Homo sapiens: one gene and its partner. The protein of the gene in region 1 purifies or fractionates together with the protein of each later gene. This does not show direct contact. Each region holds a gene or a part of one and is shown on either strand. Other genes may lie near its edges.

The links.
Region 2: the proteins of NUP160 (region 1) and SEH1L fractionate together in Homo sapiens (co-fractionation; 3 studies listed by BioGRID and IntAct, with this or other methods). This does not show direct contact.

What each region holds. Positions count from the first base shown.
Region 1 is NC_000011.10:47,809,620-47,818,299, reverse strand, and holds part of NUP160 (nuclear pore complex protein Nup160), read left to right. Parts: intron 1-175; coding exon 176-244; intron 245-2,270; coding exon 2,271-2,354; intron 2,355-2,650; coding exon 2,651-2,821; intron 2,822-4,884; coding exon 4,885-4,984; intron 4,985-5,252; coding exon 5,253-5,418; exon of another isoform or gene 5,419-5,433; intron 5,434-5,870; coding exon 5,871-5,998; intron 5,999-6,075; coding exon 6,076-6,236; intron 6,237-8,680. UniProt on the Homo sapiens protein: Functions as a component of the nuclear pore complex (NPC). Involved in poly(A)+ RNA transport.
Region 2 is NC_000018.10:12,950,309-12,958,988, reverse strand, and holds part of SEH1L (nucleoporin SEH1), read right to left. Parts: intron 7,135-8,680; coding exon 7,084-7,134; intron 3,527-7,083; coding exon 3,380-3,526; intron 1-3,379. UniProt on the Homo sapiens protein: Component of the Nup107-160 subcomplex of the nuclear pore complex (NPC). The Nup107-160 subcomplex is required for the assembly of a functional NPC.

The DNA of each region.
Region 1 (8,680 bases):
ACATTGCAGTCTTCACTTTCAGTGTGAAAACATGTAACCGCACTACTGTTATTGCCCACATATAGAAGGGCAAAATGGCAATGTTCATATAGTAGAAACTCAAACTTTGGTGTTATGTGTTGAATTCCAAATTTTGTTTAGGACAATAGTAACTTTTGTTTTAATGTTCTAATAGGAGATGTATCTGCAAAGTCTTTTTACACCAGGACAATTCACAAATGAAGCTTTATGTAAGGCTTTACAGGTCAGCAAAAAAAATTTACTGTTTGTTTAAGACTATTTCTTATTTTATTACTGTATATAATTACTATTAAGTTTTTGCATATATTAAACACTGAATGTACTTCTGTATTCATACATATGTGTGTTTGTAAATACTTTTATAATTTTTTTAATGTTCTTTCCATTAAATACAGTATTCATGGTGGAGAGGTTGGAGGGGGGACCACTTTCCCAGTAATCAGTGACACATGCCAGAGTTAGAAAGAGAAACCTCTACCTACAGTACTGTAAAAAGATACCATACTGCACTGTATAGAATCTCTGTACTTGAGAGAAACTTAAAGTGGTTTTTTGTTTAGTTTTGGTTATACTGTTTTAACCTTTTTATTAGGACAGTGAAGGTCTGACTTGGTTCAGATTCAAGAAAACTCTAGGCCGGGCGTGGTGGCTCACGCCTGTAATCCCAGCACTTCGGGAGGCTGAGGCAGATGGATCACGGGGTCAAGAGATCGAGACCATCCTGGCCAACATGGTGAAACCCCGTCTCTACTAAAAATACAAAAATTAGCCGGGCGTGGTGGCACACGCCTATAGTCCCAGCTACTCGGGAGGCTGAGGCAGAAGAATTAATCTCTTGAACCCGGGAGGCAGAGGTTGCAGTGAGCCAAGATTGCGCCACTGCACTCCAAACTGGCGGCAGAGTGAGACTCTGTCTCAAAAAAAAAAAAAAAAAAAGTTTTTGGCTTCAAATTCATTGTATAAGAGAAGCCCAGTGCTTTACAAAAGGATTCTTTGGCCAACGGTAGTGACTCACACCTGTAATCCCAAAATTTTGGGAGGCTGAAGAGGGAAGATCACTTGAGCCCAGGAGTTTGAGAGCAGCCTGGGCAACAGAGGGAGACCCCATCTCTAAAAAAAATAATAATAATAGAAAAATAGCCAGGTGTGGTGGCATGCACCTGTGGTCCCAGCTACTCAGGAGCCCTAGGTTGGAGGACTGCTTTAGCCCAGGAGGTAAAGGGTATGGTGAGCCTTGATCATGCCACTGCATTCCAGCCTGGGAAACAGAGTGACACCCTATCTTAAAAAAAAAAAAAAAAACTGAAAGGATTTTTTAAGGTTACAAAGGCTTCTGGCTGGGTGCAGTGGCTCACACCTGTAATCTCAGCACTTTGGGAGGCCAAGGGGGTGGATTGCTTGAGCTCAGGAGTTCAAGACCAGCCTGGGTAACATGGCAAGATTCCCATCTCTATTAAAACAACAACAAAAAGTTACATAGACTTTTTTTTTTTTTTTCCCTTTGAGGCAGGGTCTCGCTCTGTTGCCCAGGCTGGAGTGCGGTGGCACGATCTTGGCTCACTGCAACCTCTGCCTCCTGGGTTCAAGTGATTCTCCTGCCTCAGCCTCCCAAGTAGCTGGGACTACAGACGCATGCCACCACACCCGGCTAATTTTTGTAGTTTTTAGTAGAGACAAGGTTTTGCCATATTGGCCAAGCTTGTCTCGAACTCCTGGCCTCAAATGATCCACCCGCCTCAGCCTCCCAAAGTGCTGGGATTATAGGCATGAGCCACCACACCCAGCTTGCATAGGCTTCTTTAAATTACTACTTAGCTTCATGGATGGATTTAAAATACAATAACTCATATAATTGAAAATTATATTAGAATATTTTAGACTGACCTCCCACATAAAACAGAAATGCCTTCTGAGGCTTTTGTGATAGTTATTCAGCCTTTAATTGTCTCTACCTCCACTGACCACTTTGTCACTACCTCTTGTGGGAGTTATTATTCCCAAACTGTGTCATTGAAAAGGAAGCCTCTCTTCTATAAATCAACCCTTCAAGTATTTTAAGAATCTTTCCAGGTCACCTTTCTCCAGACTAAATACACCCAGTTTCTTAACTTTCTCTTGGGTGATGTGTGTTCCAGGTATGCCAAATCTCTATTATATAGTTTTATATTGCCTCTATGTCTTCTAAACTGAAACGTTTTCCATTCAGTTTTGGCTATTATATAGAAGTCTAAAATGTCTTTTAATGTTAGATTTTCTGCCGAGGAACTGAGAGGAATTTGGATCTTTCCTGGAGTGAACTGAAGAAAGAAGTTACTTTAGCTGTTGAAAATGAGGTGAGGCTTGGGTAGAGAAAGAATAAGAATTCCTTCCATCTTGATATAGGGCAGATTGGTACTGACCGAGGAATTACTGGAATTCTTCACTTGACCTTGTTTGTTGGAACATATAAATGTTTAAACCTTTTAACTAGAGAATCAGATACACATTTGCATAGTCTATGGCCTTTAATACGTAAGGAATATTCATTTGGCTGTAGCTTAGTATAATGATATTGGACAATTATGTTTTTTGTGGACAAAGATCCTGAATGGCATCAAAAGTTTAATTTCTTTCATTTCTTCTTTGCCAGCTTCAAGGAAGTGTAACAGAGTATGAATTCTCCCAGGAGGAGTTTCGAAATTTACAACAAGAATTCTGGTGCAAGTTCTATGCCTGTTGTCTTCAGTATCAAGAAGCCCTCTCTCACCCTCTTGCCCTACATTTGAATCCACACACAAACATGGTGTGCCTGCTGAAAAAAGTAAGTGAGCTAAAGCATAGAGAAGACCTTCTTGAGACAGTTCAGTGGCTGTTATAACAAAATGCCTTCAGAAAACAAAAAGTTCAGTGGCTCTTGCCGAATGTTAGTCTGGTGAATGTTGCGGTTAGCATTTAGGACTTTGCATTTGTATTTTTTCCCCTAAAATTGTGATTCATTCATTTAAATAGTTTTCTGTGTTATTCTCTATACTTTTTTTGTATTTTATTGTATTTATTTCTTTTTCTTTTTTTCTCTTTTTTTGAGTTGGAGTCTTGCTCTGTCACCCAGGCTGGAGTGCAGTGGTGTGATCTCAGCTCACTGCAACCTCCGCCTCTGGGATTCAAGCAATTCTCCTGAGTACCTGGGACTACAGGTGTACACCATCACACCCGGCTAATTTTTGTATTTTTAGTAGAGGTGGGGTTTCATCATATTGGTCAGGTGGGTCTTGAACTCCTGTCCTTAGGTGATTCACCCGCCTCAGCCTCCCAAAGTGTTGGGATTACAGGCGTGGGCCACCACACCCGGCCTATTTACTTTTTATATTGAAGTAATTTCCAACTTAAGGTAAGAGTTACAAGAATAGCACAAAGAATTCCTGTATACCCTTCATCTGGATTCATCATTTGTTAACTTCCATATGCTTTTCTTCTTTCTCTAAACAGTTTTTCCTGAACTACTGAGAAGTTAGTTGTAGATATCATGCTCCTTTATCCTTAAATATCCTTAAATATTTCAGCATGTATCTAAGAACACAGATATTAAATAACCACAGCCCAATTTAAAAATCAGGTTATTTGATATTGACATAATATTATACAGCTTATATTCAAATTTTGCCAAATATAACATATATATATATATAGTTTATATTCAGATTTTGCCAATTGTGCCCATAATTTTTTTTCCTGATCCAGGATCCAATCTTTTTTTTTTTTTTGAGACAGTCTTGCTCTGTCGCCCAGGCTAGAGTCCAGTGGTGCAATCTCGGCTCACTGCAACCTCCGCCTACTGAGTTCAAGCGATTCTCCTGCCTATCCTCCAGAGTAGCTGGGATTATAGGCACGCGCCACCACACCTGGCTAGTTTTGTATTTTTAATAGAGACGGAGTTTCGCCATGTTGTGACCAGGCTGGTCTCAAATTCCTGGGCTCAGGTGATCCGCCCACCTTGGCCTCCCAAAGTCCAGGATCCAATCTAATATATGTATTTAGTTATTGTGTCTCTTTAGCTTAACCTCAAACTGTTATCAGCGTTTCTTTGTCTTTCATGAGAATGATGTTATTTGAAGACTATGCTTGTTTCTTTTTTTTGTTTGTTTGTTTGTTTGTTTGTTTGAGGCAGGGTCTTGCTGTGTCACCCAGGCTGCAGTACAGTGGCACTCTTTTTTTTTTTTTTTTTTTTTTTTGAGACAGAGTCTCGCTCTGTCACCCAGGCTGGAGTGCAGTGGCACGATCTCAACACACTGCAACCTCTGCCTCCTGGGTTTATGCCATTCTCCTGCCTCAGCCTCACCAGTAGCTGGGACTACAGGCGCCCGCCACCACACCTGGCTAATTTTTTGTATTTTTAGTAGAGACGGGGTTTCACCGTGTTAGCCAGGATGGTCTCGATCCCCTGACCTCGTGATCCACCCACTTCAGCCTCCCAAAGTGCTGGGATTACAGGCGTGAGCCACTGCGCCCGGCCCAGTGGCACTCTTAAGGCTCACTGCAGCTTCAACCTCCCAGGCTCAGGTGATCCTCCCACCCCAGCCTCCCTAGCAGCTAGAATTAAAGCTGTGTGCCACCACACTTGGCTAATTTTTTTTTTTTAGAGATGGGGTTTCATCATGATGCCCAGGCTGGTCTTGAACTCCTTGGCTCAAGTGATCCTCCCACCTCAGCCTCCCAAACTGCTGGGATCACAGATGTGAGCCACTGTGCCCAGCCAAGACTTACACCTATTATTTTATAGAGTGTATTGCAACTTGGGTTTGCCTCATGATAAGATGCACATCTCAATTATTTTATACCTTTAAAATTTTACTGACAAAAATGTAACTGGAAAATTTGTATTTCCAGGGGTACCTGTCTTTCCTTATTCCCTCATCCTTAGTGGATCATTTGTATCTCCTGCCTTATGAGAACCTTTTGACAGAAGATGAGACAACCATATCTGATGGTAATAGTAATTGTTATGTCCATATTTAATCCCCTTCCTATATAAACCCTATGCTTCGTTTCACATGGATACAAAAAATATCGATTGCCACACCTGTCTTGGTCACTTTACCACACCACAAATATTTTAATGAACACTTAAGAGACCAAAGCATCTCTGAGACCTCAGATAGATTTCTTGTCATTTAATTATTAACATTTTAATGTAATATCAATCAATAGATTGTCATTGGCTTAAGACATAAATGTTAACTTTCTCTTATTTGTAGATGTGGACATCGCTCGGGATGTCATATGTCTTATAAAATGCCTCCGGCTGATTGAAGAGTCAGTAACTGTGGATATGTCAGTTATAATGGAAATGAGTTGTTATAACCTACAGTCTCCGGAAAAGGCTGCAGAGCAGATTCTGGAAGATATGATCACTATTGATGTGTAAGGAGAATTAGGGTAAAGTGCATTTCCTAATGGAAATTCAGCATTTTTAGCGCCAAAGTTGGAATTTTAATGTATGTTCCAGAGCGTACAGAATAGTAGCTTAAAGTCAAACTGATGCGCCATGATTCTAAGTACATATTTCTACTTTTAACAGAAAATTTAACACGACTTCAAGTCTAGAAATAGACTTATAAAATATGCTTTAACAATTAACCGAGCTAAAAATTCTAAAAAGCAAAAGTGTTCTTCTCATGTTTGTTTTGTGTGTTGTTTATGAAAAACTGAGAGGAAATTTGCTATGCATAGGGACTGTATCTTATATGCCAGAGTGATTATCTTCATTCCTTTATCTGGTTCTCTTGTTTCATAATGTATTTAGCTTATAGGACATATAGAACTTGCCTTACGTATTCTCGGTAGTAATAAGAGTTTTGTAATTGTCCTTATAGAGAAAATGTGATGGAGGATATTTGTAGTAAACTGCAAGAGATTAGGAACCCAATCCATGCAATTGGACTACTTATACGGGAAATGGATTATGAAACAGAAGTGGAAATGGAAAAGGGATTCAATCCAGGTAAATGACAGAACAACAAATGTGCCTCTTTGATTAAAACAATGATGCATTCAACTCCATTTTTCTTCTTTTTACAGCTCAGCCTTTGAATATTCGAATGAATCTTACCCAGCTCTATGGTAGTAACACAGCAGGGTATATTGTGTGCAGAGGGGTGCATAAAATCGCCAGTACTCGTTTCCTGATCTGCAGAGATCTTTTGATCTTACAGCAGCTGTTAATGAGGCTTGGAGATGCTGTAAGTACTGCTTGAGGGAAAACTTGTAAAATCTAAAACCTGTTATAGGCCTACAAGCACTTAGGAGCAAAATGTCAGCCCTACTAGCACAGATACTTTTGTCTTGGTTCACTGCTTTATTCTCCCAAGCTTGGCCTTATGAGATGCTCTATAAATATTTTTGAATTAAGAATGAATAAGCATTGTAATCCTTGTGAGAGTATAGATTAAGAGCATATATGGAGGGGACGGTGGGGAGGGAGAACATCAGAAAGAATAGCTAATGGATCCTGGGCCTAATACTTAGGTGTTGGGTTGATCTGTGCAGCAAACCATCATGGCACACGTTTACCTACGTAACAAACCTGCACATCCTGCCCATGTACCCTGGAACTTAACAGTAGATTTTAAAAAACATACATGAAGCAGATTGCTTTACTCTTAACCTTTGTATGTGTAGTAGTGGAAAATTTTCCCAAGTTGGCTCTCCCAAAATGTAGTATTATTAGTAACTATGAATGTGGTAAGCATACCCTTTAGTATGGAGGAAGAAAAAGAAAACTCTTTTTTTTTCCTGTCTCTCTCTCTTTTTTTTTTTTTCTTGAGACAATCTTGCTCTGTTGCCCAGGCTGGAGTGTGGTGGCCTTATCTCAGCTCAAGCAATTCTCCTGCCTCAGCCTCCTGAGTAGCTGGGATTACAGGTGCGTGCCACCGTGTCCGGCTAATTTTTGTATTTTTAGTAGAGACAGGGTTTCACCATGTTGACCAGGCTGATCTTAAACTCCTGACATCAGGTGATCCACCTACCTCGGCCTCCCAAAGTGCTGGGATTACAGGCATGAGCCACCTTGCCCAACCTAAGAACTCTCTACAGTGCAAGGCTTACCCTAAACACAGTTTTGAGATGCAGGTTTATCTTTGTGGTCCTCCTAACTCTATTCTGTGCTTTCTTTTTCATTCTGTTCTTCTTAGACCACCAGACTCTTGTTGCTAATATATAGTCCTAATCACCCACCCTACTGAATGTCCCATGCTAAGAAATTATTTTTCTCCCCACAGTCAGACATCCCATTTTTTTCTAAGTCAGTAATCTCATTTGAGCCTGTCAAAGAAGGAATCTAATTAAACCAATTCATATTAATGTGTAAATAGCCAAAAGTCCTTTGGGGCTCCCATTTTAATTCTGACTTAAAATGTATAAATGTACTTATACATTTTAAGTCAGAATGTATTAACTCAGGCTGGGCACAGTGGCTCACACCTGTAATCCCAGCACTTTGCGAGGCTGAGGTGGGCAGATCACTTGAGGCCAGGAGTTCGAGACCAGCCTGGCCAACATGGCCAAACTCCATGTCTATTAAAACAAAAAAGTTAGCGGGGTCTGGTGGCACACTCCTGTAATCCCAGCCATTCAGGAGGCTAAGGCATGAGAATTACTTGAACCCAGGAGGCAGAGTTTGCAGTGAGGCAAGATTGCACCACTGCACTCCAGCGTGTGTGACAGAGCGAGATTCTGTCTCCAAAAAAAAAAAAAAAGAAATTATAAACCCAGATACATCGCTAATGGTAGAATTTCAAGCAAGAGTAAGAAAAAGGCCAGATGTGGTGGCTCATACCTATAGTCCCAGCACTTTGGGAGGCCAAGGTGGCCTGGTTGCTTGAGCCTAGAAGTTTGAGACCAGTCTGGGCAAACCCTCATCTCTACAAAAAAATACAAAAATTAGCCGGGCATGGTGCAGCAAGCCTGTAGTCCTTGCTACTTGGGAGGCTGAGATGGGAGAATTACCTGAGCCTGGGAGGTTGAGGCTGCAGTGAGCTGTGATTGCGCCATTGCACTTCTGCCTGCATGACAGAGTGAGACCCTATCTCAAAAAAAAGAAAAAAAAAATTGGGAAGATAATTTGTTTAAGATCACCAAGTTGAAAAATGAACCTTTCCTGAAAGTCTGTTAGGTTGGTTAGCCTTTACTAAGTTCTTTTTGATCTATGTAGATTCTTCCATTTTTTTCAGGTTTTTTGTTTTTTAAATTATAACTTTTGTCAATTTTTCTGAACACAGAAGTAATAAGATATTCATTGTAGAACCTTTACAAAATATATATAAGCAAAAATTTAAAAAATTTATAATTTTCTACCCAGTGATTACTACTTAAATTTTGCTATATACGTTTTTTTCCATGCACATTCTTTTTGGTTTGTTTGTGAAATTTAAATAAACTACATAGTATTTTTTGTAATCTGGTTGTTCTGTTCTTCCACTTTATAAATCTCAACATTTTTCTTTTTGTTGCCAGTTTTTCCTTTATGTCCATAATTTTCCGCACATCTTTTTTTTTTTTTTTTTTTTTTTTGAGAGTCTTGCTCTGTAGCCCAGGCTGGAGTGCAGTGGTGCAATCTGCAACCTCCGCCTCCTGGGTTCAAGAAATTCTCATATCTCAGCCTCCCAGGTAGCTGGGATTACAGATG
Region 2 (8,680 bases), on another chromosome or scaffold:
AAAACTGGAACCCTTGAGCATTGCTGGTAGGAATGTAAAATGGTGTAGCTGCTATGGAAAAGTCTGACAGTTCCTAAAAACGTGAAACATAGAACTACCATATGAGCCAGCAATTCTACTCCTAGGTATATTTCCAAAAGAATCGAAAGCACGGTCTCAAACATTTATCTGTACAACAATGCTCATAGTAGCAGTATTCACAATAGCCACGAAGTAGAAACAACCCAAGGGTCCATCTACAAATGAATGGATAAACAAAATGTGGTATACACACACAATGGAATATTACTCAGCCATAAAAAGGAATAAAGTTAATATATGCTACAAAATGGACAGACCATGAAAACATTTTACTTAGTGAAATAAGCCAGTTGCAAATGGACAAATACTGTGATTCCACTTACATGCAGTACCTAGTCAAATTTATAGACAGACAGTTGAATAGGGGGTAGAGGGAGGAGGAAGGGGGAGGCATTCTTTAAAAATATGGAGTTTATGTTGGCAGTGATGAACAGTTTTGAGTACAGATAACAGTGATGGGTACACAGCACTGTGAACGTAATTAATTCTACTGAATTATACCATTTACAAATAGTTAAAATGGGCCAGGCATGGTGGCTCACGCCTGTAATCCCAGCACTTCAGGAGGCCAAGGCAGGAGAATCATTTGAGATCAGGAGTTCGTGACCAGCCTGACCAACATGGTGAAACCCTGTCTCTTCTAAAAACACAAAAAAATTAGCCAGGCATGGTGGCACATGCCTGTAGTCCCAGCTACTCAGGAGACTGAGGCAGGAAAATCGCTTGAACCCCGGAGGCGGAGAATGCAGTAAGCCGAGATCCCACCACTGCACTCCAGCCTGGGTGACAGAACAAGACTCTGTCTCAAAAAAAAAAAAAAAAAAAAAAAAAAAAAAAAAAAAAGTTAAAATGAGGAATATTATGTTATACATATTTTACCACAATAAAAAATTGCATCATGGCCCTCGTAGTGGCTCACGCCTATAATCACAGCACTTTGGGAGGCCGAGGTGAGAGGATTGCTTCAGTCCAGGAGTTCAAGACCAGCCTGGGCAACATGGTGAAACCCCATCTCTACAAAATAAAAAAATCAGCCTGTGGTGCATGCCTGTGATCCCAGCTACTTGTGGGGCTAAGGTGGGAGGATCACTTGAGCCCAGGAGGTTGAGACTGCAATGAGCTGTGACTGGCTCTAACGTAGTATCATGCCATTAGGGAGGGCAGGTGAGGGGTAATAGCAGGACACTCCCACTACACACTTCCTTTTGTTTCTTTTGAATTTTACACCATGTGCATGATTATCTATTACAAAAAACAAATCATAAAGGGGGAAAAAAAGCATGCAGATGATAATACCTTCATATGAAAATGCTGGAAAGAGTCTTAAATATAATCTAGTTCAATGTTTTCACTTTATAGATGAGGAACTTCAACAGCACACAGATTATATTATGTTCTTGCCCAAATTCAAACATCCAATAAGGCAAAGACAGCGATAAAAGCAGATGTAGATAAAGGAGAGTGTATTTTTTTTTTTTTGAGACGAAGTCTCGCTCTTGTTCCCCAGGCTGGAGTGCAATGGCACGATCTCTGCTCATCACAACCTCCGCCTCCCGGGTTCAAGCGATTCTCCTGCCTCAGCCTCCTGAGTAGCTGGGATTACAGGCATGTGCCACCATGCTCAGCTAATTTTTGTATTTTTAGTAGAGGGGGAGTTTCTCCATGTTGGTCAGGCTGGTCTCAAACTCCTGACCTCAGGTGATCTGTCCATTTTGGCCTCCTAAAGTGCTGGGATTATAGGCGTGAGCCACCGCACCCGGCCGAGGACAGTATATTTCCTAAGAAAACAAAAGTAACCACAAAACAAAAGAAACAATTTTTATAGAATTTTTTTTTTTTTTGAGACAAGTCTCGCTCCGTCGCCCAGGCTGGAGTGCAGTGGCGTGATCTCGGCTCACTGCAAGCTCCGCCTCCCGGGTTCACACCATTCTCCTGCCTCAGCCTCCAGAGTAGCTGGGACTTACAGGCACCCACCACCATGCCGGGCTAATTTTTTGTATTTTTAGTAGAGACAGGGTTTCACCATGTTAGCCATGTTATTTATTTTATTAGGTGGGTATTTTCTGTAGAAAGAATTTGCAAGTAAAATGGTGGACTTACAGAATCTTTGTTTCAAAGGTTGGTTACGCTAAACTCTGAAGCAACTCTCCAACTATCAGCACTGGAAGTAGTCAAGTTTATCTGGCTAGATTTTTCTTTTATTAGTAAAATGTCAGAAGAACTGGACTTCAGAAGCATTACAATCCTAAATATAGAATGTCTTCTAAAGGTTAAAACATTCTGGAATTTAACTTTTTATTTACATGTTATGTTGATCAGTTTTCTTCTCTCATAGAAGTAAAACTATATTCTGTTTCCTGATGTAAAACCAGTGTTTATGAAATATGAATAAGTATTTAGGAAAAAAGAAGCCCTGGGATAATGAGTATCTGTTCTTTTCTTTTTTTTTTTTTGATTCCCCAGACACACAGTGGATCTGTATGGCGTGTGACATGGGCCCATCCTGAATTTGGCCCATTAAATTTATTTAAATTTAAATAAAATTTAAAGAATTTTATTAACCCTTGGCCAGGCGTGGTGGCTCACGCCTGTAATCCCAGCACTTTGGGAGGCCGACAGGCAGATCACGAGGTCAGGAGATCGAGACCATCCTGGCTAGCACAGTGAAACCCCGTCTCTACTAAAAATGCAAAAAATTAGATGGGCGTGGTGGCGGGCGCCTGTAGTCCCAGCTACTCAGGAGGCTGAGGTAGGAGAATGGCGTGAACCCGGGAGGCGGAGCTTGCAGTGAGCCAAGATTGTGCCACTGCACTCCAGCCTGGGTGACACAGTGAGACTCCGTCTAAAAAAAAAAAAAAGAATTTTATTAACCCTTAAGAGTTTAAAGTTAAAAAAAAAAAAGAATTTTAGAGTTAGGCACAGTGGCTCATGCCTATAATCTCAGCAACTCAGGAGGCTGAGGTGGGGCCAGGAGTTTGAGACTGCAGTGAGCCAGAATACTTTAAAATCATATATTACTATCATAAAATATACTAATAGGTAAAATCAAATACAATGCAAATATTCTGGATTCATCATAAAAGTTATAAACAATGCAGTGATGCTCCTAAGTATTGCTTCAGACCCAAGTTAAAATGAAATAAAAAAGGAAGAAAAAAACATGGAAGAAAGAACTTTAGAACTGGTAAAACTAGAGGGGAGTGGTGATATTTTACCAATTATCTGAGGTAGCCTTCGGATGAATGCTCCTTGGCTGCTCATGTCTTCCCGGTCCCCAGAATACTAATAAATGTCTCACCCAGTGGCTCTGTCCTCGCAGTTTATCATTTGATTCTCCTACTATTTCTTCCCATACAGCAGCTGTTCGGTCAAAAGAACAGGAAGCCAAAACCTGCCCAAATTCAGGATGGGCCCATGTCACACGCCATACAGATCCACTATGTGTCTGGGGAATCAAAAAAAAAAAAGAAAAGAACAGATACTCATTATCCCAGGGCTTCTTTTTTCCTAAATACTTATTCATATTTCATAAACACTGGTTTTACATCAGGAAACAGAATATAGTTTTACTTCTATGAGAGAAGAAAACTGATCAACATAACATGTAAATAAAAAGTTAAATTCCAGAATGTTTTAACCTTTAGAAGACATTCTATATTTAGGATTGTAATGCTTCTGAAGTCCAGTTCTTCTGACATTTTACTAATAAAAGAAAAATCTAGCCAGATAAACTTGACTACTTCCAGTGCTGATAGTTGGAGAGTTGCTTCAGAGTTTAGCGTAACCAACCTTTGAAACAAAGATTCTGTAAGTCCACCATTTTACTTGCAAATTCTTTCTACAGAAAATACCCACCTAATAAAATAAATAACATTAGATTTATTTGCTCCAAAATCCATACAGACAGAAAGTAGATTAGTGGTTACCAGCGGCTGGGAGCAGAGTAAACAAGAAGTGACTGCTAAATGAGCACAGGGTTTCCTTTAGAGGTGGTAAACAATGTTCTGAAATTAGAAGTGGTGGTGGTTGCCAATTAAATGAATATACTTAAAATCACTAAATTGTACACTTTAAATGGGTGCACATTATGATATGTAAATTATAGCTCAATCAAAAAAATACTTTTTTTTCATTTGATTCAACCAGGCATAGTGGCTCACGCCTGTCTTCTCAGCCCTTTAGGGGGCTGAGGTGGGCAGACTGCTTGAGCCCAGGGGTTCAAGACCAGTCTGGGCAATATGGCAAAATGCCATCACTACAAAAAATACAAAAAATTAGTCAGGTGTGGTGGTATGCACTTACGGTCCCAGCTGCTTGGGAGGCTGAGGTGGGAGGATCACTTCAGCCTGGAAGGTTGAGGCTGCAGTAAGCCAAGATTGTGCCACTGCACTCCAGCCTGGGTGACAGAGCAAGAACTTGTCTCCAAAAAAAAATTATTTGCTTCAAAAGTCTAACAATATATAGAGATTATAGCCATAGAATGCTTAAATGATTTTAACTGACAATACAGTCTATCGATAACAGACTATTGTAGGAAGAGCAAATATGGGGAAGCCCAAATCCTTACACCCCTCCTGTTGGCCAAGGGGTGGGAGGGGAGGTGGCTGGAGAAGGGATACAAAGGTCTTAAAGAATTTCACCATCAAAAGAATTTGCTAGGTGCTTCTCAGGGAAAATACTGTATAATAACAAATAACATTCAGAAAATGTGTTTCACACTGTATAGCTAACATTTTTTACATTCAACAACATAAAAATAGTTTAACCAATAACTTCTACATGGTAACAATGTCACCAACTAAAGGTACATTTTGCACCCTTTTTTTTTAACCTTGTTTTGTCCAGTCTTTTCTGTATCATCTTTAATTCTTACTTATACAGGGCTATAAAATTAAAAATGCACACTAAGGCAGATAAGTTTTATTAGATTTACAGTAAAATGCAATCTAAAGAATAAGGTTTGCACAAAGATGCTCATCACAATAAAATGGAAACTGAAATATCCACTAGTTAAGCAAAATGGTATATTTATTGGCTGTTAATAAAAAGCCTTTAAAGATATAGAAAAGTACATATGAAATATATTAGGCTTAAAAGCAAGAGATGGGGTTTCCTTTTGGAATAATAAAAATGTTTTAGAACTAGAAAAAGGTGGTAGTTACACAACACTGTAAATGAAGTAAATGCCAATTAATTGTTTACTCTGAAATTATTAATTTTATAAGTTAACCTCACCTTAAAAGGGGGGGGGACCTTGGATAGACCTTTCACAAAAGAAGATACATGAATGGTAAATAAGCATATGAAAAAATAATCAACATGAGGTATTAAGGAAATACAAATCAAAATCCAATGATTTTTGTGGTCACTTCTCAACTACTAAAATGGCTATAATAAAAAAGACAGATATTATCGAGTGTAGGTGAGGATGTAGAGAAACTGGAACCTCACACATGGCTGGTGGGCACAGCCACTTTGGAAGAGTTTCGCAGTTTCTTAGAAAGCTAAGTGCATATAGCCCATCAATTCCACTCCTACGCATCTATCCAAAAGAAATGAAAATATATGTCTACACAGACTTACATGGCACGTTCTTAACATTACTCATAACAGCCAAAAACAACAACTCAAATGTCCGTCAACTGGTGAACAGACAAACAAAACGTGGCAATATACATACAACGGACTACTCAGTATCAAAGGAACAAATTGACACATGACACAATATGGATGAACCTCAAAACATGCAAAGGGAAAGTGGCCAGACACAAAGGACTATGTATTTCAAAATTCCATTTCTATGAAATTTCTAGAAAGGATAAACCAGGCCAGGCATGGTGGCTCAAGCCTGTAATCCCAGCACTTTGGAAGGCCAAGGCGGGCGGATCACTTGAGGTCAGGAGTTCGAGACCAGCCTGGTCAACATAGTGAAACCCTGTCTCTACCAAAACTACAAAAATTAGCCGGGTGTGGTGGCATGCGCCTGTAATCCCAGCTACTCAGGAGGCTGAGGCAGGAGAATCGCTTGAACCCAGGAGGCAGAGGTTGCAACGAGCCAACATCGCACCACTGCACTCCAGCCTGGGCGACAGAGCAAGACGCCAGCTCAAAAAAAAAAAAAAAGAAAAGAAGAGAAGAGAGGGTGGGAGGGGAGGGGAGAGGGAGGGCAGAGGAGAGAAGAAACCTATGGAGACAGAAAATGGATCAGTGGTTGCCTGGGGCTTGGAGTGGGAATAGGATACAAAGGAATTTCTGAGTTTGAGAGAAAAGTTCTAAAACTGGATTACAGTGATGACTACACAACTATGTAAGTTTACTAAAACTCACTGAACTGTACATTTAAAATGGATGACTTTTAAGGTATGAAAATTTCTACTTGGCCGGGCACAGTGGCTCATGCCTATAAACCCAGCACTTTGGGAGGCCGAGGGAGGATCACCTGAGGTCAGGAGTTTGAGACCAGCCTGGCCAACATGGCGAAACCCCATCTCTGCTAAAAACACAAAAATTAGCCGGGCATCGTGGTGCACGCCTACAGTCCCAGCTACTTGGGAGGCTGAGGCAGAAGAATCACTTGAACCCAACAGGCGGAGGTTGCAGTGAGCCAAGATCACGCCACTGCACTCCCACCTGGGCAAGAGAGCAAGACTCTCCGTCTCAAAAAAAAAAAAAAAAGAAAATTTCTACTTGAGTAAAGGTTTTGTTTTTTTTTTTTAAGAGAAAACTATGTATGAAACATCACAACAATTAAAATATGTAAAGGCAAAAGGAATATTCTGAATTACTAAGATAATTATGTTAGAATGCTACAGAATTACAGATTTTCTTACTCTCAAATTCTGAGAAACACAGTTGTTACTTTAATAGCGAAAAACAGTAAAATGTCTTCCCAGGAAAAGAACTACTGTATAAATGTTATTTTCTCAAAACAATTCATAGATAACTATAAAATAAACAGTAAATATTTCTGTATTTTTAATAAATGTAAAAATAAATACTAACCTTCCAGCTAGCAGTACAATGCCAATCACCACTTTCACTTTTATCCCAGACCTATAAGAAAATAAAAGGCAGATATTTTATACAAAAATTCCTACAAATTGATACAAAAACTATAAGACTGAATCAGTGTACAAGGAAAGCGGTGAACATATAGTTAACAAAAGAACACAATCAGCAAGTAAACATTCATTCATTCAATTAAGTATTTATTGAGAGGCTGGGTGCGATGGCTCATGCCTGTAATCCCAGCACTTTGGGAGGCCAAGGCAAACGGATCACCTGAGGTCAGGAGTTCGAGACCAGCCTAGACAACGTGGTGAAACCCCGTCTCTACTAAAAATACAAAAATTAGCCAGGCATGGTGCCGCATGCCTATAGTCCCAGCTACTAGGGAGGCTGAGGCAAGACAATCGTTTGAACCCCAGAGGCGGAGGTCGCAGTGAGCTGACATCACGCCACTGCACTCCAGCCTGGGAGACAAAGCAAGACTCCGTCTCAAAAAATTTACATTGAGAACCTTGAATGTGTCAAGCACTGGGCCAAGCACCAAGGGATTCAGGAAGCTGAGCTCTATTAGGTAACAGAGACAATTAGTTACAGTCACTACGCTTGGAGGCCATTTTAAACAGCAAAATCACCAACAGAAAGAACAAATAATCATTGCACTAAATAAATCATGAAAAACACCTGCTTACAGTATGAGCCAAAATAGAGTATCGCCTGGTTTCACCTCAATGGGAAACGTCTGTCCTGAGACTCAAACTTTTTCACCACTCCTCACACATGCACAAATGACTGCAAAACCAGTGTGACTTTTGGGGTACAAGTAAATTTCAGAGTAGACAAATTCAAAAAATACAGAATCTACAAACAACAGGCTCAACTGTACATGTAACAAATGGTAAAGCAAAAATATTGAAACCAGGCATGGTGGTGCACACCTGTAGTCCCAGCTACTCAAGAGGCTGAGGCAGGAGGGATTACTTGAGCCCAGGAGTTTAAGGCTATGATCACGCCCGTGAATAGCCACTGCACTCCAGCCTGGGCAACATGGCAAGACTCCATCTCAAAACAAAAAAATTAAACCTTATTACCCAGAAAAAATATAGATTACAATAAGAAGGTGCCAATTTCACCTGTTAAAAATGTAACGAGGGCAATAACACTATCAAATCAATACTATCACTGGCGGTATAAAACGGTACGACCTGCAAAATAGCAATTTGTCAATTCTCTTCAATAGTGTTTAAAATATCCACTAATTTATCTTCTAGAATTAGCCTAAGAAAATCATTCAAAATACATAAAATGCTAAACTAATGAAAAATTTCAGTACAACACTATTTCTGACAAGACATATACGTATATACACACACTCTACCATGACAACTTAAAACGTTAAAGGAAAAACAGAGGAAATCAATAAATATTAACACATTAGCAATAAGTCTATAATTTTTTCACTTTCTAAAAAGAAAAATATATTACTTGCTCAATTAAAAATATATACAAATAAATACATGGCTCCTCCTTTAAAAAAAAAGTACTCTGGAATAAATGGACCTAAGAGGGCTGGGCAAGGTGACTCACACCTGTA